Linked DNA regions of Homo sapiens. The protein of the gene in region 2 binds, or shares a complex with, the protein of the main gene of each other region. Links are inferred from orthologs where the notes say so. Each region holds a gene or a part of one and is shown on either strand. Other genes may lie near its edges.

Evidence for each region.
Region 1: the proteins of DYDC2 (region 2) and NME5 are in contact, whole or in part, in a cryo-EM structure (PDB 8X2U), measured with the Mus musculus proteins. The link is inferred for Homo sapiens from one-to-one orthologs. Residues at the interface, in NP_001347537.1 of Mus musculus: Asp2, Tyr5, Leu6, Cys9, Phe10, Gly13, Leu14, Leu18, Val21, Ala22, Arg23, Val24, Arg25, Pro26, Asp28, Pro29, Ile30, Glu31, Leu33, Ala34, His35, Leu37, Tyr38, Tyr40, Arg41; in NP_542368.2 of Mus musculus: Arg140, Ala145, Val146, Ile147, Ile151, Pro152, Ala156, Ala157, Tyr160, Ile161, Tyr164, Val165, Thr168, Leu169, Leu173, Leu176, Cys177, Lys180, Pro181, Asp183, Pro184, Tyr185, Leu186, Leu188, Ala189, Asp190, Leu192, Met193, Asn196, Pro197.

Annotation. Positions count from the first base shown.
Region 1 is NC_000005.10:138,134,498-138,147,068, forward strand, and holds the start of NME5 (nucleoside diphosphate kinase homolog 5), read right to left. Parts: upstream 4,932-12,571; 5' UTR 4,892-4,931; coding exon of another isoform or gene 4,874-4,891; exon of another isoform or gene 4,407-4,873; intron 4,289-4,406; 5' UTR 4,284-4,288; coding exon 4,155-4,283; intron 1-4,154. Other genes in the region: BRD8 (bromodomain-containing protein 8), read right to left, coding at 5,577-5,669, 6,208-6,385, 10,680-10,748, 11,292-11,381. UniProt on the Homo sapiens protein: Functions as part of axonemal radial spoke complexes that play an important part in the motility of sperm and cilia. Does not seem to have nucleoside diphosphate kinase (NDPK) activity.
Region 2 is NC_000010.11:80,350,615-80,362,277, reverse strand, and holds the start of DYDC2 (DPY30 domain-containing protein 2), read right to left. Parts: upstream 5,498-11,663; 5' UTR 5,453-5,497; intron 4,386-5,452; 5' UTR 4,233-4,385; intron 3,410-4,232; exon of another isoform or gene 3,379-3,409; intron 3,353-3,378; exon of another isoform or gene 3,333-3,352; intron 1-3,332. Other genes in the region: DYDC1 (DPY30 domain-containing protein 1), read left to right, coding at 9,677-9,823, 10,276-10,377.

The DNA.
Region 1 (12,571 bases), on a different chromosome or scaffold from region 2:
CCTCTGAAAGTGCTGGGATTACAGGCATGAGCCACCGCACCCAGCCCTAATTTTGGATTTTTAGTAGAGATAAGGTTTCACCACATTGGCCAGGGTGGTCTTGAACTTTTGACCTCAGGTGATCCACCCGCCTCATCCTCCCAAAGTGCTGTGATTACAGGATTGAGCCACCACGGCCGGCTAATTTTTAATTTATAATTAACACTAGCCACTTAATTATTAAGTTTGTCACTTTTTTTTTTTTTTGAGACGGAGTCTCGCTCTGTCACCCAGGCTGGAGTGCAGTGGCGCGATCTCAGCTCACTGGAAGCTCCACCTCCCGGGTTCACGCCATTCTCCTGCCTCGTAGCTGGGACTACAGGTGCCCGCCACTGCGCCCGGCTAATTTTTTGTAGTTTTAGTAGAGACGGGGTTTCGCTGTGGTCTCAATCTCCTGACCTTGTGATCTGCCCGCCTCGGCCTCCCAAAGAGCTGGGATTACAGGCGTGAGCCACCGCGCCCGGCCGTCACTAAATATTTTTTAAAATATGGACTTTTTTGGCCGGGCATAGTGGCTCACGCCTGTAATCCCAGCATTTTGGGAGGCCGAGGCAGGTGGATCACAAGGTCAGGAGATCGAGACCATCCGGGCTAACACAGTGAAACCCCGTCTCTACTAAAAATACAAAAAGTTAGCTGGGCGTGGTGGAGGGTGCCTGTAGTCCCAGCTACTCGGGAGGCTGAGGCAGGAGAATGGCGTGAACCTGGGTGGCGGAGCTTGCCGTGAGCCGAGATTGCGCCACTGCACTCCAGCCTGGGCGACACAGAGCGAGACTCCGTCTCAAAAAAAAAAAAAAGGACTTTTTTTTCTTTTTCAAGACAGAGTCTCCCTCTGTCGCCCAGGCTGGAGTGCAATGGCACGATCTTGACTCACTGCAACCTCCGCCTCCCGGGTTCACGCCATTCTCCTGCCCCAGCCTCCCCAGTAGCTGAGATTACAGGCACGTGCCACCACACCCAGGTAATTTTCATATTTTTAGTAGAGACGGGGTTTCACCATGTTGGTCAGGCTGGTCTCCAACTCCTGACCTCAGGTGATCCACCCGCCTTGGCCTCCCAAAGTGCTGGGTTTACAGGCATGAGCCACTGCACCCGGGCAAAATACGGACTTTTAAAAAACTTAAATGGGACGCCTTTATCTGTATACTTCATTTATTTTTTCTAAAGTTAATGGGTAATATAATTACAGGATTCAAAAATTCAAAGCAAGACAAAAAGGTATATACTGAAAAATCTTATTCCTATCCATTTCCTAATCTACTCAGTTCTTCCTTGCCCTCAATAGGCAACCCTTTTTAAATGTTTATTTCCCCAGAATTCCATTTTTCAAATATTGGCAAACATGAATATATTACTTTGTCTCTATCACAAAAGGTTGGTACACATGATTTTGTGTTTTTTTTGCTATTTTGTTCTTTTTGCTACACACTTTGCTTTCTTCCGTTAACAGTACAGACAGGTTCCTCATTCTTCTATTTACAATTAGTTGCATATTATGCAATTTGATGGGTTTTCCAGAGTTTATTTAGTCCTGTCTCCCAATCTCCCAACCTGGGTTATTTTCAATCTTTTGTTGATAAGTAAACAATGCTGCAAAAAATAACCTGCATATATATCACTTCATATTAATACAGGCACCTACTGATGGGACTAAACAGGGCTCTGCGCATGACAGGTAGTAAGAGCACAAGGAATTCTATAGGACAGATTTCCAAGAGCAGAACTGCTGGATCAAATGGTAAGTCCATCTGTTGTATTGGTAGATAACTGCCAGATTCCCTTTGATAGGGGTTGTGCCATTTACTTTTATATTTTTGCCAAATGGAATCTCAGTGTAGTTTTAACTTGCTTTTTTTCCCACCTAAAGATTGAGCATCTTTTCATATATTTAAAAAATGTTTTTCCTTTTCTGTGACCATCCATCTGTTCTGCCCATTTTTCTACTAATTTATTTTTATCTTTTTCTAGGAGCTCTTTATGTATTAAGAAGACAAGCCCTTTGTCTATGAGTTGCAAATCTTTTTCCCAAGTTTGTTGTGTTTTGACTTTGCTTATGGTGTTTATTTCATTGTGCAGAAATTTTTTGTTTATATAATCTTTTTTTAAATTAAAAAAATTTTTTTTTTCGAGAGTTTCGCTCTTGTTGCCCAGGCTGGAGCACAATGGCACGATCTCGGCTCACGGCAACCTCCGCCTCCCATGTTCAAGCGATTCTCCTGCCTCAGCCTGCTGAGTAGCTGGGATTACAGGCATGCGCCCCCACGCCTGGCTAATTTTGTATTTTTTAGTAGAGATGGGGTTTCTCCATGTTGGTCAGGCTGGTCTCAAACTCCTGACCTCAGGTGATCAACTCACCTTGGCCTCCCAAAGTTTTGGGATTACAGGCATGAGCCACCGTGCCTGGCCTTGTTGATATAATCTTATCAATCTTTTCTTCCATGGCTCCTAGACCTTAAGTCATAACAAAAAAAAAAAAGGCTGTCCTACTCCAACAACAAAATAAATCCATTATCTTTTCTTCCTGAACTTACATGGTTTAATTTTTTTAATATGTAGATCTCAGGTTTATTTGGAGTTTATCCTGGTATATAATACTTGATCCAAATTTTTCAGTGGCTACCAGTTTTCCTAACATTTACTAAAAAGTTATTTACCTGAGTCTTTAATCATATTAAATACTTCCTAACACTTTCTTGTGCCATCCCTACTCTCGGACTCCACCTGTCCTTTGAAGCTCAACTGAAATTCCGTATCTTTTCTGAAGATTGATATTTTCTCTTTATTTATTTATTTATTTTTTGAGACAGATCTCCCTCTATTGCCCAGGCTGGAGTACAATGGCGTAGTCTTGGCTTACTGCAACCTCTGCCTCCTGAGTTCAAGCGATTCTCCTGCCTCAGCTTCCCAAGTAGCTGGGACTACAGGTGCACGCCACCACGCCCAGCTAATTTTTGTATTTTTCATAGAGATGGGGTTTCACCACATTGGCCAGGCTGGTCTCAAACTCCTGACCTTATGATCCACCCATCTCGGCCTCCCAAAGTGCTGGGATTACAGGCGTGAGCCACCGTACCCGCCATTTTCTCTTTATTTTTAAAAATACTGACTGAATAAGCAATATGACACTGTATAAATGGGAGAAAATAAAAAATTGGAAGTTCGAATGAGAATACTGTAAAAGAGGCGGGGTGCAGTGGCTCACACCTGTAATCCCAGCACTTTGGGAGGCCGAGGCGGGTGGATCACGAGGTCAGGAGTTCAAGACCACCCTGGCCAACATGGTAAAACCCCGTCTCTACTAAAAATACAAACATTAGCTGGACATGGTGGTGCATGCCTGTAATCCCAGCTACTCAGGAGGCTGAGGCAGGAGAATTGCTTGAACCGGGACCTGGAAGGCAGAGGTTGCAGTGAGCCGAGATCGTACCACTGCACTCCAGTCTGGGCTACAGAGGGAGACTCTGTCTCAAAAAAAAGAAAAAAAAACTATAAAAGAGGAAGATTAAAAATATTCAATTCTATTTGATTTATCCTTAACAATGCTATTTATATTCACTTTCAAACCCCTAGAATGACAATGTTTACTAATTGCAGAACATAAGGCTTAAAACATTAAATGTTATGCCATAACTGAAAAAAGTACCAATAGCCTAAAATTCCATCAATAGAAGATCAAGTAAATAAATTGTAGTTCTAATACACAGGGAAATATTACACAGAAATTAGGAAGAGTGAGATCAATTCAGATGCAATGATCTGGAATCCTATCTGAGGGACTCTGTAAAGGGGTCAAGGGAAAGGGACTGTTCTGTTTTATGGGGGGAAAATGTTTATAAATGCATAGAAAACTCCTGGAAGAACAGAAAGTGTTAAGTGGTTGCCTCTCTCTGGAGCCTGGGACTTGGGGTAAAAGAGGACAGGTGAAGGAAAAGTCCATTTTATTTCTCATTTTACATCCTTTTAAAAACTATCACATATAACTTTTATACTTAGAAGAATAAACTTAAATTTAATGCTGAACACTAAGGGTTTAAATGGGTAGGCACATTTACATAAGCATTTTTTTTTTAAGGGCAGAGAGGAAAAAAGCATGAATCATCATACCCAGAAGTTACCTGAACAATGGTGAATCCGGATCTAAGAATAATATCTTGTATCTCCTCCTCTTTGTCAACAATATCTGGTTTGATAATGGCCAGAGTTTTTTCTACATATATCTGAGGTGGAGGCATTGATATCTCCATTATGGCTTTTCAGGGCACAAATTAAGAGTTTCTTAACAGGTATCAACTGCAATGACATGCATTTCCCCCCACCCCCATCGCAAATTCAATGTAATTATGATTAAGAATAGCAATAGTAGGTACTTGATTTTATTAACTGATGAAGGTAGAAACTGCCATGTTTTTCTATATACAGGGTCTCAATAATAGGATTCCTACTATGTCCAAATCGAGCCCCGGCTTTTCGTATACGATGTCACCAAGGCAGGAAGGACTATGGGCTCACATAACCAGAGGCCAAGGGGCGACCCGAAGGCCTGGAACCAGCAACAGCCCCAGGCAGCAGAGGGCGGTGGGGCGGGTGGTGGGGGCTCGAGGGGGCGGTAGAGCGGGTGGTGGGGGCTCGAGGGGACGGTGGCTGGTGGGCAACCACACACCATTACAGCGGCGGGTGAGCGGCCTCGGCCAGCTGCCTCTGTGAAGCGACCCTGTCCCGCAGGGACCTCTCTGTGCATAGGGTCAGGCTAATTGAAAAGCAGGGCCTCTAGGTCCGCGGGGACTTTCCGGGTTGCACCTGCAAATTCTGAATTTGACCCTCTCTAAGTACTCACCTCAGCGGCCGTCCTCATATGGTACAACTTGTTGCTAGGAGACCTGAAGCCCCAGCGTGGGGACGGTGGCTGCAGAGAGCCAATCCCAGCAAGGAACCTTGCAGCTTCTGGCCAGTTCGTTTTAACCAAAGGGAGCCAGCCAGTCACTTTTATTCTCCTTGTGAATCTTAGAGCACTAGATGTTTTCTGACATTTTACTCATAATTTATCTTATTTCATCCTTCTTCCCGTTTGAAGGATGCTTCAATTATCCCTACTCTATAAATGATAAGAACCCCTCCCCCAACCATTCCTTTCCAGGCGGTATATGTAAATGACCCGTGTCAGATACCTTCGTTTCACCAGATGATGCTGTGCCCTCTATGCCCAGCTTATCTAGTCATTAAAAAGCAATATTCCTATTGTGTAAATACATTTATTTATAGAGTAAAAGGCTTAGAAAAGATCTAATGGAATTGTCTTTAAATCAAGCCGATGGAACAAAGATGTGGGCAACATTTATGGCATAAATCCAAACCTCAGCTTCCCCTTTTTTTCTTTATATTATGTCCACATGCATCTTTGACTCGTTGGTTGTGAGTTAAGGTATTATTCTTGTTGGAAAAGAAAATGAGGACATGGCAAAGAAGTACCAGGATCCTCTCTAGGTCAGAGTTCCGGGAGAGATTCAAACTCTAGAAAAAGTCAGGATAGCAGCTCCAGGTTAGAAAACAGGTTTTCCATCATCCACTGGGTTAGCTGGTTCTCCTTCCAGACTACTTGAGCCTTTTCTTTTGTCTAACCAGATATTCAGTACCTAAAGGGTTAAGGAACACATAGCAAGCTATTATGAACCTTAAACACTAAAGTATTGCAAGTTTATTTTTTTGGCAAATAGACTCAACTATACTTTTTTCTTTAAAGTATGATGCTACCCAGAAAAGAAACCCACAAATGTCTTCTAGCTACTATATCTTATCCCCTAAAGATGGGAAAGTGTGAACGTACATTAATAACAACAGATGAAGCAACCAAAAAATACACAGTGACTCCAGCCTCTTTGGAGTTTAGCCCTTGACTTGAGGCTCTGGAAGCGGGAATTCCCATTACTTGTCTATCCTCAGCTCTCTTGAGAGCTCTTCACTGCTGCCTGCATTCCTAGACTACTTCACTATCAGAGCTGGACTTACTGAGGCTCAGGGTTTTCCAAACCAGCAGGCACATTATCAATCCTTCAGGGCCTTAATCACCTTTAAAAATAAACTCTGAGAACACAGTCACCTCGAAATCACCTTTATTCTCATAGGCGTTCTGAAATCAAGATTCCAGAGGCTACAGGTATCTGCATACAGTACCTGAATCTGCTCCAGGACTTCTTGCCGCATCTCCACAGCCATATGGTATACATGATGATCAGAGTCATTGTACATTACAGCATTTTGGAACATCAGCATCAGGTCTCGCAGGAATTGGGCCATGGTGCGAATCCGACCCTTAGAGAGATTTCTCTTCAGGCTAGTTAAGTCCATGGGTCTGCAGGTGGCCAAGAAAAAACAAAGAAAATCAAACCTTCATGTGGAACATATGATAACCTAACACGTTCTCTTGAAGAACTAACCAGTTCTTAATGAAAACAGTAGCAAAGATAACAACCCTCATCAGATAATAAAATAGCAACAGCAGTTAATATTTGCCTGTTTACAATGGGCCAAACACTGTATTTCTATACTAACTCACTTAATCCTCTCAATAAACCTGTAAGGTAGGTATCATTAATATCTCATTTTTTTTTTTTTTGAGTCGGAGTTTCACTCTTGTTGCCCAGGCCGGAGTGCAATGGAGCAATCTCAGCTCACTGCAACTTCCACCTTCCAGGTTCAAGCAATTCCCCTGTCTCAGCCTCCAGAATAGCTGGGATTACAGGCGTGCGCCATCATGCCCAGCTAATTTTTGTATTTTTAGTAGAGATAGGGTTTCACCATGTTGGTCAGGCTAGTCTCGAACTCCTAGCCTCAGGGGATCCACCTTCCTTGGCCTCCCAAAGTACTGGGATTACAAGTGTGAGCCACCGCCCCCGGCCTTATTATCTCCATTTCACAGATGAAGAAATTGAAATCTAAAGAGGTTAAGTACTCACTGAAAGGCACACAGCCTGAATTCCAATTCAGAGGCAGCCTGACTCCAGAGCCCACAGGTCAAGCCACTATATTCTACTATCAGAGGAGGAGTGCTGGCCCCAGGTATCAAAGTTGTAAAGAGCACCAATCATCAGTTTATCACACAGTAGTTATTTGCTGTTTACAATGTATAGTCATATATTATTTCATCTACTTCTCTTACTGCACAAATAAAAAGCTAAGAATAATTTTTTTCTCCTTTCATGGAGATGAAAAAAGGATCAAGTGAATATTAAGACAATATTAATGAGACACAGAAAGTAGATATATAAGAGAAGGCACAGCAGTGTAGAAAGAAGACTGAACTGCAGGTAAGAATCTGGGGCTTAGTTCTAGCTCTGCTATTAACTGTTGGTTGATCACGAGCAAGTCATGACCAAGCACCTCTGAGCTTTAGTTTCCTCATTCCTAAAGAAGTTTGTCTCTGCTGTTTGAATGATGGTATCATTGTCTCTGCTGTTTGAATGATGGTATCCCCTCCAAAATTCATGTTGAAACTTAATCCCAAGTGCAACAGTATTAAGAGGTGGAGCCTTTGGGAGGTAATTAATTCATGAGTGCTCTGCCTTCATGAATGGGATTAGCATCCTTATAAAAGGGCTCCATATCGAAGAGAGTGCCCTCTTATCCTTCTGTCCCTTCTGCCATGTGAGGATACAGCATTCGTCCCCTCTGCAGAATACAACAACAAGGCATCATCTTAGAAGCAGAAGCAGAGAGTAACCCACCTCACACACCAAAACTACCAATGCCTTGATCTTGCACTTCCCAGCCTCCAGAACCAAAACAAAGAAACATAGATTTCTATTATTTATAAATTATCCAGCCTGTGGTATTGTGCTATAGCAGCACAGACTAGTGACTCTCCAAAGGTCCTATCATGATCTTTTACATTCTATTACCATACAGGTTTATGACAGCATTTTAGATGACCTATGCTATAAAAACCCAAAATAGGCCGAGCACAGTGGTTCAAGCCTGTAATCCCAGCACTTTGGGAGGCCGAGGCAGGCGGATCACGAGGTCAAGAGATTGAGACCATCCTGGCCAACATAGTGAAACCCTGTCTCTACTAAAAATACAAAAATTAGCTGGGCGTGGTGACGTGTGCCTGTGGTTCCAGCTACTCAGGAGGCTGAGGCAGGAGAATCACTTGAACCCGGGAGGCGGAGGTTGCAGTGAGCCGAGATCTCATCACTGCACTCCAGCCTGGTGACAGAGCAAGACTGTCTCAAAAAAAAAAAAAAAAAAAAATCCAAAATAGGCTAGGATTACCTGCCTGTAATCCCAGCATTTTGGAAGGCTGAGGTGGGAGGATTGCTTGAGACTACGAGCTTAAGACCAACCTGGGCAATCTAGTGAGACCCCATATCTACAAAAAATTTAAAAATTCCTCCTCAGTGATATTCTGAAGAAAAATAAAGTTATTAATAACATTTCAAACAAAGAAAATATTTTATTATAATAAAAATATCAGGCCAGGCACAGTGGCTCACACCTGTAATCCCAGCACTTTGGGAGGCTGAGGTGGGTGAACTGCATGAGCCCAGGAGTCTGAGACAAGCCTGGGCACCATGGTGAAACTCTATCTCTATAAAAAATACAAAAATTAGCCGGGCATGGTGGCACACACCTCTAGACCCAGTTATTAGGGAGGCTGAGGTGGAAGGATTGCTTGAACCTGGGCAGTTGAGGCTCAGTTATCCAAGAAATGTGCCACTGCACTCCAGCCTGAGCAACAGAGTGAGACCTGTCTCAAAAAATAATAGTAAGTAAAAATTTAAAAAATAATAAATTTAAAAATTAGCTAAGTGCAGTGGCACATGCCTGTAGTCCCAGCTACTCCGGAGGCTGAAGTGGGAAGATTGCTTGAGCCCAGGAGGTCAAGGCTGCAGTGAACCATGATTGCACCACTGCACTCCAGCAACAGAGTGAGACCCTGTCTCAAAAAAATTTTTTTAAATAAAAAATAAAAATAAAATCCCAAAATACTGAGAGGTGAAGCTGGCTGGGCTTCTGGGTTGGGTGGGACTTGGAGAACTTTTCTGTCTAGCTAAAGGATTGTAAACACACCAATCAGTGCTCTGTATCTAGCTAAAGGTTTGTAAACACACCAATCAGCACTCTGTAAAAACGCACCAATCAGCGCTCTGTGTCTAGCTAAACATTTGTAAATGCACCAATCAGCGCTCTGTGTCTAGCTAAAGCTTTGTAAATGCACCAATCAGCACTCTGTAAAAACGCACCAAAAAAGGTTTGTAAACGCACCAATCAGCACTCTATAAAAATGGACCAATCAGCACTCTGTAAAATGGACCAATCAGTACTATGTAAAATGGACAAATCAGCAGGATGTGGAGGAGGCCAAATAAGGGAATAAAAGCTGGCCCCTCAAGGCAGCAGTGGCAACCCGCTGGAGTCCCCTTCCACACTGTGGAGGCTTTGTTCTTTCACTCCGCAATAAATCTTGCTGCTCCTCACTCTTTGGGTCCGCACTACCTTTATGAACTGTAACACTCACCGTGAAGGTCAGCCGCTTCGCTCCTGAAGCCAGCAAGACCACGAACCCAACAAGAGGAATAAACAACTCCGGATGTACCACCTTTAAGAGCTGTAACACTCACCGCCAAGGTCTGCAGCTTCACTCCTGAAGCCAGCGAGACCACCAACCCACTGGGAGGAACGAACAACTCCAGAGGCGCCACCTTTAAGAGCTGTAACACTCGCTGTGAAGGTCTGCAGCTTCACTCCTGAACTCAGCGAGACCACAAACCCACCGGGAGGAAGAAACTCCGGACACATCTGAACATCCGAAGGAACAAACTCTGGACACACCATCTTTAAGAACTGTAACACCACGAGAGTCTGCAGCTTCATTCCTGAAGTCAGCGAGACCAAGAACCCACCGGAAGGAACCAATTCCGGACACAATACTACAATCAACCAATGTTCATAACTTCCATTTGGATCGACATCTGTGCCTTACTATACCTATAACTAACTGAATAAATACAGGGTTCCTTTTAAAGTTTTGCTCCAAAAGAATAGTGTCAAAAACAACCAAAGGCTAATTTAAGATTATAATTAATGATCAGGCTGGACACCAAGGCTCACACCTATAATCCCAGCCTTTGGAAGGCCTAGGCAGGTGGATTGCTTGAGCTCAGGAGTTCAAGACCAGCCTGGGCAACATGGCAAAGCTCCGTTTCTACAAAAAATACAAATATTAGCCGGACGTGATGGCTCATGCTTGTAGTCTTAGCTACTTGGGAGGCTGAGGCTGGAGAATAGCTGAGCCTGGGAAGAGGATGTTGCAGTGAGCCAAGACTGTACCACTGCACTCCAGCCTGGGCAACAGAGTGAGACCCTGTCAAAAAAAAAAAAAAAAAAAAATATATATATATATAGAATGGATCATATTACTTAAAAGTCAATAGTACAAAATAAAAAGCCTATATCATCCTTTTGTTCCCTGCATTCCTTCTTAAATGAAGATATGATACTGAGCTCATCATAACTTTATAAACTTGTTTGGCTATGAAACATATCTTGAGTTTGTAAGTTATAAAAATAATCTAACAGATGGGAAATAAAAAATGAAAAGGCAGATATAAAAGCAACCAACCTTTCTTGACCCCTTTTTCACTGACCTTTTCACCACATCCTTGTACCCTGGGGCCTGCCTTTCTGACACAGGCTTCAGAAATGGACTGCTGAACCTGTTAAGGGACAAACCCAGAGAGGATAAAGAAACCCTGGCAAGGCACTCTGAAGGAGAAGAGTAGCTCAGTTCTTAGTAGACTTCCTTTAGGGGAATGCAGACTGTCAGCACCATTAGGAAAAAATCTATTTGTTCCCTCTTGCCAGAGAGTTAAAAAAAACACAAAACTATAAAATATTTCACTATTATTACAATATACTGATTTAGGGCTCAGAAATTTGTTCAAAGTTCCCAAGGCCCTGTCTCTGTGAAAAAAGAGAATCCACCAGATTGAAAAGAAGAATATACATTTTAAATATAAATTTTATCATGTAGTAGGAACCAATTTCTAGAGGCAACTCAAATGGCACAGCAACTATTTCTTGTACAGACTTGTGAAAGCAGCTGTGGGTACTTTGGGATAAATCGGGCTTAGATACAGAATCTACCTTTCAACTATGGCTCATTTGAGGGATGAACATATCTCCTTTTATGCTTAAACCCCAATATGTATTACTGCTTCAGCTCTGAACATAATCCTATTACCACTTTGGAGACCTACCTGTGACTGGCAATCATCTTCCAGACTGGCAGGAGAGTCTTCTTAAATAGCAAATGATCCTGAACAGGGTCATCCTGGCTTAGATCAGTCCTATGAGGATAAAACATGAAGAAAAGAGACAGTAACTTCACAAATAATATTCTATCTCCCCCAGGTGGGTAATGAGGTTTTCTTAAGACATGCTCCTAATTAATATCTGAAGCTTTTTATCTCCCCTTATCTGGCCAAGCAGACTTAGTTATTAATATCTATTGTTTTCTCTTTTAATTTTTTAATTTTATTTTTCTGAGACAGAGTCTTGCTCTGTTGCCCAGGCTGGAGTGCAGTGGCATGATCTCAGCTCACTGCAACCTCTGCCTCCCGGGTTCCAGCGATTCTCCTGCCTCAGCCTCCCAAGTAGCTGGGACTAAAGTTGCATACCACCACACCCAACTAATTTTTGTATTTTCCATAGAGACGGGGTTTTGCCATGTTGGCCAGGCTGGTCTCAAACTCCTGGCCTTAAGTGATCCACCCGCCTCAGCCTCCCAAAGTGCTGGGATTACAGGCATGAACCACCATGCCCAGCCAATTTTTTTTTTTTTTGAGACAGGGTCTTGCTCTGTTGCCCAGGCTGGAGTGCAGTAGTGTGATCGTGGCTTACTGCAGCCTCAACCTGCTGGGCTCAAGCGATCCTCCTGCCTCAGCCTCCCAAGTAGCTGGGACTCCAGGCACATGCCACCACGCCCTGCAGCTAATTTCTGTATTTGTTGTAGAGACAAGGTCCCACTACGTTGCCCAGGCTGGATATCTACTGCTTTCTAATAAAGATTTCATATTTAATCTAAATTGTAAGGTAAGAATGTGGAATTTACCATCCAAGACTATGAACTGTCATGAGATAAGATGTCTCAGATTGGGCCCGGTGTGGTGGCTCACGCCTGTAATCCCAGCACTTTGGGAGGCCGAGGCAGGCGGATCACAAGGTCAGGAGATTGAGACCATCCTGGCTAACACGGTGAAACCCCGTTTCTACTAAAAATACACAAAAAATTAGCTGGGCGTGGTGGCGGGTGCCTGTAGTCCCAGCTACTTGGGAGGCTGAGGCAGGAGAATGGTGTGAACCTAGGAGGCAGAGCTTGCAGTGAGCCGAGATCACGCCACTGCACTGCAGCCTGGGCGACCGAGCGAAACTCCGTCTCAAAAAAAAAAAAAAAAAAAAAAAGTCTCAGATTGCAGATTTCCTGCTGTTTGTACAGTCACAGTATGTCATCTCTGCACTCTATTGCTCATACTTAAGG
Region 2 (11,663 bases):
ATATTCAGTGGAGGATTGTGCCATGAAACAACCTAGGACCTGGCCTCCTCCTGACGGAGTCCATATTCCTGAAGTTGACACATTTTAATTCCAAAAGAGCCCAGCAAATAATAAAAGCTCAGATCTAGCCTTAACATTTTCTGGAGGCATTTTTCAATTTGTCCCCCTACTTCTCATATTTTAGCTTAAGGAAGGAAAAACAAGTAGACAGATATCCATATCTATCTTATACATATCTATCTTATGGACATAGGAAAAAATATTTCCTAGCTCTCTCCACTGCAAGGGCCTTGAAACCAAAACACTTCAGTAGCAATGAGCACGCTAAGCATATAAACCTTGCTTGTAAATAGCCTTCATCACTTAAGAGGAATCAGGGCTCCTTGGAGAAATGGCTGATTCCAAGGCTGGGGCAGGACAAGCCTAACGAGCCTGGAACATTTTGTTGTGCCAGAAAGTAAGAAAATTCTAAAAAATACAATCGTTGGGGACAGAGAAGCCAGCTTGAAGGGGCTCCTACTAGTCAAATCTGGGGCAGTTTGACCATTAAAATAGTGACTGTAATGGATTATAACTTACAGAATAAAATAAGAATCCATGAGTCCATATGAGAATATATAAGTAGATTAAGAAGGGAGAAGGCAAAGTTCTTTGTTAAAGTAGAATGCCAACTAATAAATGTGGGGAAAATAATGGAGTTTTAAAAAACTGCCATTTCCTCACCACCATAGTATAACTGAATCAAAGCAGGATCATCAATGAGTCAATGAGTGCTAAACCTGGGTGATCATTTGACAAGGAATAAGATATATGCATAGTCTCAAAGTTTCTTCTCACAAATTAAGTATTAATTCCAAAGGAAATACAGAAATTTTACAGTGGCAAAACCTGGCCAACAAAACCTTAACCAAGTAATCAAAGTAAACATCACCAACAAAGGAACAAAGTGACATCAACTGCCTCCTGATGTGATGCACTTCTTATGGTACATAAAACATTTCCGTGGATTCCTGCCTAAAATGCAATATTTGAATGTAATTGAAGAAACATCAAATAAATCCAAAGCAACTACCCTGTACTCTTAAAAATGTTGAGGGTATGAAAAAAAAAAGAGTAACTGTTATAGATCAAAGGAGATTGAACAGCCATAATAACTACATGTAACACATGATCCTAGATTGGGCCTGGACAAGAAAAAATAATTCAGCTGGGCATGGTGGTGCACGCCTATAAATCCAGCACTTTGGGAGGCTGAGGCAGGAGGATCACTTGAGCTCAGGGGTTTGATACCAGCCTGGGCAACAAGGCAAAACCCTGTCTCCACAAAAAATACAAAAATTAGCCAGGTGTGATGGCACACACCTGCAGTCCCAGCTACTTGGAGGGGTTGGGGGCAGGGCTGAGGTGGGAGGATCACTTGAGCCCAGGAGGTTGTGGCTGCAATGCGTTGAGATCTCACCACTGCACTCCAACCTGGGTGACAGAGCGAGACCCTGTCTAAAAAAAAAAAAAAAGAAAGAAAGAAAAGAAGAAGAAAGAATTCTATAAAGGGCATTGTTGGGAAAATTGGTTGAACTGAATGTGAAATGTAGATTATGTGACATAATTTATCCAAGTTAAATTTCTTAATTTTGAATAATGGAAATATGAGTAAGAGAATGTCCTTGTTCTAGGGCTGAATAATGGCTCCCAAATGTGTCTATGTCTGAATACCTGGAAACTATGAATATGTCACCTTAAATGGCAAAAGAGACTTTGTAACTGTGATTAAATTAAGGATCTTGAGATAGGGGGATTATCCTGGATTATCTGAGTAGGAACAATGTAATCACAGGTGTCACTATAAGAGGGACACAGTACGGTCAGACAGGGAAGGTGATGACAGAGCCAAGGGAGAAAAAGCGATGTGATTCAGGGCCTTGAGCCAAGGGTATCCTCTAGAAGCTGGAAAAGACAAGAAAATGGATTCTCCCCAGAGCCTCCTGAGGAACCTGCCCTGCTGACACTTTGGTTTTAGCTCTATAAGATTCATTTTGGACTTCTGACCCCAAGACCTGTAAGGGAATTAAAAAAAAATTGAGTGGGGTAGTGATGGAGGGTGGGGACAGAGGTGGGTGGTGTCTCCTGCCAATCTGTGTGGCCCACTTGAACCAATGCATTTGGATAAACAAACTTCTACACCCCTCTTACTCAAAGCTAGTCTGACGACAGATGACCAGCAGCATTCCATCACCTGGGTGAGAGGTGACAGCGTGCTGGCAGCCCTCTCTTGCTCTTGGCACCTCCTCGGCCTTGGTGCCCACTCTGGCCATGCTTGAGGAGCCCTTCAGCCCGCCGCTGCACTGTGGGAGCCCCTCTGGGCTGGCCAAGGCCGGAGCCGGCTCTGCTTGCAGGGAGGTGTGGAGGGAGAGGCGCGGGCGGGAAATGGGGCCGCGTGTGGCACTCGCAGGCCAGCGCAAGTTCCGGGTGGGCGCGGGCTTGGTGGGCCCCGCACTCGGATCAGCCGGCCAGCACTGCAGGCCCCAGGCAGTGAGGAGCTTAGCACTGGGCCAGCAGCTGCAGAGGGTGTGCTGGGTCCCCCAGCAGTGCCGGCCTGCCAGCACTTTGCTCGAATTCTTGCCGGGCCTCTACTGCCTCCCCACGGGGCTCCGGACATGCAGCCCGCCATGCCCGAGCCTCCCCCGCACCGTGGGCTCCTGTGCTGTCGGAGCCTCCCTGATGAGCGCCACCCACTGCTCCGCGGTGCCCGGTCCCATCGACCGCCCAAGGGCTGAGGAGTGCGGGCACACTACGTGGGACTGGCAGGCAGCTCCGCCTGCAGCCCTGATGCGGGATCCACTAGGTGAAGCCATTTGGGCTCCTGAGTCTAGTGGAGACTTGGAGAATCTTTATGTCTAGCTAAGGGATTGTAAATACACCAATCAGCATTCTGTGTCTAGCTCAAGGTTTGTAAATGTACCAATCAGCACCCCGTGTCTAGCTCAAGGTTTGTAAATGCACCAATCAGTGCTCTGTGTCTAGCTAATCTAGTGGGGACTTGGAGAACTTTTGTGTCTAGCTCAAGGATTGTAAACACACCAATCAGCACCCTGTCAAAATGGACCAATCAGCTCTCTGTAAAACAGAGCAATCAGCTCTCTGTAAAATGAACCAATCAGCAGGATGTGGGTAGGGCCGGATAAGGGAATAAAAGCAGGCTGCCTGAGCCAGCAGCTGCAACCTGCTCTGGGTTCCCTTCCACACTGGAAGCTTTGTTCTTTTGCTCTTTGTAGTAAATCTTGCTGCTGCTCATTGTTTGGGTCTGCACTGCCTTTATGAGCTGTAACACTCACTGCAAAGGTCTGCAGCTTCACTTCTGAAGGGAGACCAGCAACCCACCAGAAGGAAGAAACTCTGAACACATCCGAACATCAAAAGGAACGAACTCTGGACACGCCGCCTTTAAGAACTGTAATACTCACTGTGAGGGTCCACGGCTTCATTCTAGAACTCAGTGAGACCAAGAACCCACCAATTCTGGACACATTGGGACTTGTTGAGATGCAGAATCTCAGGTCCCACCACAGATTCAGAACCTGCATGTTAATAAAATCTCCAAGCGACCTGTAGTTACCAATCTACTTTGCCTGGATCACTGTAGAACTGTCCTTCCCCGAAGGCAGAATCACCAACTCTGCATTCTCTAGTCAGGGGGTGGCTGCCACACTGGTTACATGTGGCAAGCCGTATTGGCATACCTCCCCCTACTCTAAATTGCCCATTTTCAACAATGATCTGAAGGAAATGTGTTTGCCCAACAGTCGCTAAAATATGGTACAAAGACAGTAGAGCCAGCATAGAGCCATAATCTGAGGGCTGGAGGGGAAGGAGTCAAGGGGATGCCTTTTATTTTTTATTTTTAAGAGAGAGCCTTGGTCTGTCGCCCAGGCTGGAGTGCAGTGGCACAATCTCGTCTTACTGCAATCTCTGCCTCCTTGGTTCAAGCAATTCCGCTGTCTCAGCCTCCTGAGGAGCTGGGATTACAGGTGTGCGCCACCACACCTGGCTAATTTTTGTATTTTTAGTAGAGATGGGGTTTCTCCATGTTGGCCAGGCTGGTTTTGAATTCCTCACCTCAGGTGATCCGCCCACCTCCGCCTCCCAAAGTGCTAGGATTACAGGCGGTGAGCCACCGCGCCTGGCCAAGGGGATGCCTTTTAAAGCCCACTCAGACCAACTTAGGGTACACTCACCAATGGGGGGAGAGGCTATTTTTCAGTGTTTCCCAGAGCTCCTCTGAGGGTCTGCTTACACAGTTCCTGGACTTGCACTCAGTAGGCAAGGTGATAAGAATAGGGGTTGTCTTTGTTTACTGTATACCGCCCACGCTTGGCACACTGGGAGCTCTGTAAATATTTCTTGACTTATTCATTGAGAGAGTTCTGCCACCTGCCCTCATGCTTCCCTTTGATTTTTCCACGCCCAATCTGGCATTTACTAGCTCAACTAACATCTATTAAGGCCTCTCTTGCCTGGCACTGCCCCGCCCATAAGCTGAAAGAGAGCACAGGAAAGGCTAGCACATGCACAGACGACTAGGCCAGGGAAGACTGCAAGGGTTTGGGCCTGGTGGAGACTGGACGGCTTCCCGGTGGTGGGGCACCCGAATTGGTTCTGAAAGGAACCAAGCAGAGGTCACCAGCAAGAGCAAAGGTGCAGAGTTGTGAAACTGCCAAGCTATTAGCAGCTTGCAGTGACGGTCTTCCAGGGACTCTGGAAGGTCTTCCACCCTTTTCCGATTGGCTGCCCTTCCTGGTTCCTCCTCAAAGCCCGCCACCTCTTTGTCTCTCCCAGAGCATGCCGGGCTGCCAGTCAGGGTCCCTTGCTCTTTTGTGTGCCCCTACTCCTCCAGGTTTCTGTGTAGCAAGTCTCCTCGGCTCACCCACCCCGCGCGCCTCCACATACGCCTTTCCTCGACCCCTCACGAGCACACGCCCGTCCCGCGTGCCCGCTCCTCTCTGCCTCCCGCCCCGATCCTACGCTCCCCCTCCTCCCTGGACCCCGCCCCCTGGAGCGCGCCCGCTTCTCTCTGCCACGCTCCCCTTCTTTCATTCCCTCTCCTCTCTGCCCGTTGCCCCCTCGTGCGCGCTCTCCCTCCTGCACACCGCCTCATCTCTGCCGCAGGCCCGACTCCTGAACGCCCCCTCCTCTCTGGCCCCCTCCCCTGGCGCGCGCCCCCTTCCGCACGACCCCTTCTCTCTGCCGGGCGCCCCGCGCCTGCACGCCCCCTCCTCTCTGCCGCGCCCCCTCTACTCTGCGGCGGGCTCCTACTCCTGCACGCCCCCTCCACTCTGCCGCGCCCCCTCTACTCTGCCGCGCCCCCTCTACTCTGCCGCCTGCTCCTACTCCTGCACGCCCTCTCCTCTCTGCTGCGCGTTCCCCCTTCGCTGCCCACCGCGTGCCCTCTGCTCACCTATCCGCGCGCCCCTTCCGCTTTGCGGCGCCTACACTGGCTCCTGAGGCGCGAGCTCTCGTTGCCTGGCAACGGGACGCCGCTCCTGGGTGGCGAGCAGGCGCGTGTGTAGGGGTGAGCGCACCGGAAAGGCCCGAACTGTTTTTGGGATTTGTTCCCCTAGCTTCGCTGGGTCCGGCGGGCAGAGGCGGTTCTGACCGTTGGGCCTTGGGCGTCGAGCAGGACTCACCTGAGGCGGAGAGAGGCCGCTTCGCGCCTGGGGCTCCCGAAAGCGGCCAGCTGTCCTCCTGCTCCCCCTGAGCGGGGAGCGCTGCGTCTCCTGCGGGCTGCGGGAGACCCTTCCAGACTCCCGGGTGGGAAAACCACACTGAGCGCCCCGGGAGGTTGCCAGATACAATACTGTATCTGGCACCCCTGCCCGGGTGCCCCCGCCCAGTTGGCTGGCTGGCTGGCTAGCTGTCTCCCAGGTGTGGGTAAGGAATCTCCTTCCATCTCTGTGGCACCTTCTTCACGCTGGAGGCAGCTGTTTCTGTGGGAAAGGGCTTTCTTATGTTGAGCCAAGATGCCTATTGGTGTATGTGAAAAATAACATTGCTTACCACAGGAGAGATGGGTATTATCCTCGTTTCACAGACAGGAACATGCTAAGGGAGTTGGCAGGCCTTGCCTGGGTCCCACTGATATGCCCAGAAATCCGAGACAGAGCCTCCCCTGACCTGGCCCCGCTGGTAGGCCAGAAGTTTTCTCTTTAGGGATAATGGTCCCCTTCCTCCCTTCCCACATTTTATCCTTCTGGAGCAGCAACAGGAGTCTGTGCACCTTTTTTTTTTTTTTTTTTTAACTTCACTTCAAATGACTTTGAGATGTCTGTGTAGCGTTTTGGTCTTTCAGGTATATCCTACTGAAGAAATACAGTGAAGATACTGTGTTCCAAAGTCAGTTGTAATAATTCTTTTCTCTGTATGGTTGAGACACCAATATCAACCTCATTTGGAATTAGGTTCATTTGTGCCAGTTTGTTTTCCGTTTTTAGAGTTTTTATGACTATGTTTACATATACACACATACACATTCCTTTCCCCACTGCTGTTGCTAATACAAAAGATGACAGACCATATACAATTTCAGCACCTCGTTTTCTTTATTCTGTGTCTTAGAGATCACTCTCTAGTTTCTTCATTCTCTTGTACATCTGCATAATAATCCATTGTGTTGCTCTTATTAATCCCCAATTTGATGAACATTTAGATGGTGCTTCAGTGTGACTATTGTAAATAATGCTGCAAATAACTGTGTGCATATGCCATTTCATATTTTTGCAACTATATCTTTGAGATAGGATCCAAGAAGCAAGATTGATGAGTCAAAGGGTGAATGCATATGTGATTTTCTAGATGTTGTCAAATTCTCCTCCATAGGAGTTATACCATTTTGCCCTCCCACCACTGTCATATGGCATATGCACATAGTTATGGCATAAAATTTCAGAGACACTGACATCCTGGGGTTCATCCATAGAATAAAAATTGGGGGTTATGGACGGACCCCAGGATGTCACTGTCTCTGAAATTTTATGCAAAATGCTAGATGCATTTGTCCAGGGACAAGTTTAGACACAGTGGCATTCTATCCCCTGTAATTGCCATGCTCATTCCTATATCAGGGCCTTTCCTCATACCTAGAAGACTCTTCTCTTCTTTGTCGTGTTAATTTTACTGTTTTTTTTTTTCAGTAAATGTAAGCTTAGCTCAAATGTCACCCCCAAAGAAGCTTTTTTTTTACTTTCCTGACTTGATCAGCTACTCCTCTTGTCTGGTCTCATAGTACTTATTTTAACTGCAATTTCATATTTATTGATTTAAATATTTATCTTCCTTTCTCATCTATAAGCTCCATGAAGGCAGAGACTGTTTTTGTTTTAGTTTGCGCTGCTGTAGCAAATTACCAACACTGGGTGGCTTAAAAACAATACACATTTATTTCTCACCATTCTGGAGGCTGGGAAGTCTAAAATCAAGGCATTGGCATTTCTGGTGTCTGGTGAGGACCCTCTGGCTGGTGTGCAGGTGGCTGTCTTCTAGTTTTATTCTCAGATGGCAGAGAGTGAGAGCACGCTCTCCCATCTCTTTTTATAAGGGCATTAATCCCATGCATGACGGCTCCACACTAATGATCTAATCACTTCCCAAAGGCTCCTAATACCATCACATTGGGAGTTAGGATTTCAACATATGGATTTTTGGGGGACACAGATATTCAATTCACAATAGTTTTGTATTCCCAGTACCTATCATGGTGCCTGACCTATAATAGGTATTCTTTTTTTTTTTTTTTTTTTTGAGACGAAGTTTCACTCTTGTTGCCCAGGCTGGAGTGCAATGGCACAATCTCAGCTCACTGCAACCTCTGCCTCCCGGGTTCAAGTGATTCTCCTGCCTCAGCCTTCCAAGTAGCTGGGATTACAGGTATGTGCCACCACGCCCAGATAATTTTGTATTTTTAGTAGAGACAGCATTTCACTATTGTGGCCAGGCTGGTCTCGAACTCCTGACCTCAGGTGATCCACCCACCTCAGCCTCCCAAAGTGCTAGGATTACAGGTGTGAGCCACTGTGCCCGGCAAATATTCATTATACATTTGTTTAACAATTGATTACATTTCATCAGATTCTCAGGAAAAAATATATATATATATATTTTTTTTTATATATGAGACAGAGTCTCACTCTGTCGCCCAGGCTGGAGTGCAGTGGCACGATCTTGGCTCACTGCAAGCTCCGCCTCCCAGGTTCACCCCATTCTCCTGCCTCAGCCTCCCAAGTAGCTGGGACTACAGGCGCCCGCCACCACGCCCAGCTAATTTGTTTGTATTTTCAGTAGAGACTGGGTTTCACATAGTTTCCAAAAGGGCTCCAAGGAAGTCACTACAACTAACATGGTTTCAAAATCCTGAAGGACTCTCAAGTCCAAGAGTCAGAAAAGAGATATTATCATTATTGATTTCAAGTTTACTTGATGCCAAGTAATGTGGGTCTCATGTAATCCTCACAACATACCTGAAAAATGGGTATCATCATCCCAGTGGGAAGATGAGCAAGCCCAGGCACAGACAGAGTAAGTGCACAGTTCAGGATCACACAGCTGGCAGATGAAGGAGATCCGTTAGCCAGGATGGTCTCGATCTCCTGACCTTGTGATCCGCCCGCCTCGGCCTCCCAAAGTGCTGTGATTACAGGCGTGAGCCACTGTGCCCAGCCGATTTCTTAAAATATTAAGGGTAATCTGAGGGTGATCAATTTTTCCAAAGCATCTGAAAGAGATTGGTTGCTCCATTTTTCCTTTTCTGTTTTAAAAACAATCTGGTCGGCCAGGCGCGGTGGCTCACGCCTGTAATCCCAGCACTTTGGGAGGCCGAGGTGGGCGGATCACGAGGTCAGGAGATCGAGACCATCCTAGCTAACACAGTGAAACCCTGTCTCTACTAAAAATACAAAAAAAATTAGCCAGACATGTCCATGGAATTAGAGCCCAGGGTGTGCTGGGGCCAGGAGAGATGATGTCTGGAGGTGAACTTGAAAAGAAAATTGGGGCCAGATTGTGAGGAGCTTCATATGTTATTATTTGGAGGCTGAGTTTTTATTCTTTGGCCTTGGAAATTTATGGATTTTTTTTTTTCAAAAGGTGGACTATTGTGATGCTTTGTAAAAACGGCTCTCATGGCTTAGGAGGAACATTTTAGTGTAGTCTTTAGGGTTAGGGTTTTGGAATCAAGAGGTGGGTACAAACCCTGTCTCCTTCATCTGCCAGCTGTGTGATCCTGAACTGTGCACTTACGCTGTCTGTGCCTGGGCTTGCTCATCTTCCCACTGGGATGATGATACCCATTTTTCAGGTATGTTGTGAGGATTACATGAGACCCACATTACTTGGCATCAAGTAAACTTGGAATCAATAATGATAATATCTCTTTTCTGACTCTTGGACTTGAGAGTCCTTCAGGATTTTGAAACCATGTTAGTTGTAGTGACTTCCTTGGAGCCCTTTTGGAAACTATTAGAAGTTTCCTGGGGCCAGCTTGCTTGTGACACCCCCAATGGGAGGTGTCCATGACTGAGGGCAGGGTGTATGTAAGGCTTTGTTCACCTCACTGGACTTTAGTTTTATAGTGACTTTATTGAAAATATCCTGCAGTAATGCAAAAACACTTACTTTTTAGGAGTTAGAAATGGAGTCAATATATCTTCAAAAGCACCTTGGGGCCTGTTTAACTCAAGGTCTTGCAGAAGTGGCAAGAGTTCGCCCAGTGGATCCGATAGAATATTTAGCATTGTGGATTTACAAGTATAAGGAAAATGTGACCATGGAACAACTGGTAAGTAGGAATCTCCTTCTAGGAAATTAGAAGAAAAAAAACTGGTCCAACTTGTCTGCTTTTAAAAAAGTTTAACATTATTATTTTTCTGTTATAAAAATAATGTTTATTATACAAAAACTTGAACAACATGAAAAGCAGGAAGGAGAAAACATTACCCAAAGAAGACTTCTATTTAGATTTTTAGGTAATTCCTTTCATGGGAAGTCTTTTTTCTATAGATTTATAGATTTACGTTTATGTACTTGTGATCATACACAATGTATAACTTTAATATTGTGCTCATTATTCAGATAAAATATCTTCCCAAATTATTATATCATTTCCACAGGGATGGGCTATAATTTGCTTAACACTTTCCCTAATTGTTCCTATTAAGTGCTTTCAAGATTGCTTTTACAAATTGCTTTCTCGCTAAGAAGTCGTGTGCTGTTGTTTTTAAACAATGCTAGAGACAAAAGGAAATGGCCAAGCTGGAGCGTGAAAGAGAATTAGCTCTGATGGAGCAGGAAATGATGGAGAGGCTCAAAGCAGAGGAGCTCTTACTTCAGCAGGTGAGGCAAGTAGGAGAGTTCAGAGGGGACTGGAATTAACGATGCCAACCTCAGCATGGCACAGCCTAAATGTTGATAAACTTCCCAGCTCCAGTTATTTAGATATGGCTTCCTAATATCTTCATCTTTATGGATGTGTGTGTCTTCTTTGCTGGAGAAGCAGCAGCCATGAGTTTTCCTGAGTGCATTCTTGTATACACATATACACATTCCTTTCCACACTGTTGTTGCTGATACAAAAGATGCCATACCTCCAGGTAAGAGGAAAATACAGAGTGTGCTGTCACAGAAGGCAAAGGGAAAGACTGTTTTGGTGAGATCTGAGTGGTCAACCATATCTATTGCTGAATGGAAAAGTGTTCATGAGAGGCCACCGTAATTTGGCGGGAACAGTGTGGATGGAGTGGTGGGGGTGGGTGGACTTAGGCAGGGGAGGTGGAAAATGTAGGCAATGCTTTCAAGGAGATTTTGATAGCAAGGAGAGATGTTTTTGTGTTTGTTTTGATTTAAGAGCACAGTAGTGGAGGAGTGAGTGGGTGACATTAGGAAATAGAGTGGATGATTCGTAGGGTCAGCTCACCATGGAGATGAGAGGAAATGGGCCTGGATCATAGGTTGGGCAGGGAGAAGGCACTTCTTTGATTATAATCAAGGGAAAGAGGAGAGAATGGTGTTGGTGGAAGCACCTTCTGCGTACAACTGTTTCTGTCTTCTTTATGAAGTAGGCACCATGTTCACTTGCTAAGAACAAGGTTGTAAGGTAGGAGGTGTGGGCAGAGTGGTGAAGTTAGAAATGACAGCTTTGGAGAATGGAAGAGAGAGTTGAGGGATATAATTTAGCATTACTTGGTAGCAGTTGAAGATCAAGTACTGATAATCGTGCCATTTGATTTGGTTATGTGATGATGTGATTCTCTTCACTTGGGCCCAGATGTCTGAGTGAAGAAGTGGAGCAGGCAGACCTTTTAATTGAAGCAGGATTGGGGTAGCATGATTAGGGAGCTGAAGATATTGGTAAGGGAATTGTTGAAGGGATGGGTCATGGAGTACAAGCTGGAGAGAGGAAAGTTCCAGAATGGCTTCTGGACTGATTTAATTTATAGAGAGCTTCTAAGCTAAATTTAAGCCACTTCCATAGTTCTACCAGATAATACTTAACCCCAGAGTCTTGACTCAAATTTACATATTTAAAAAGGGGAAAGAAGCCTATTATTTGAGTATGTGGATAGAAAGAAAAATATAGACCTGGCAAATAGCTTCTCTGACTAACCTCCTATCCCTGATAT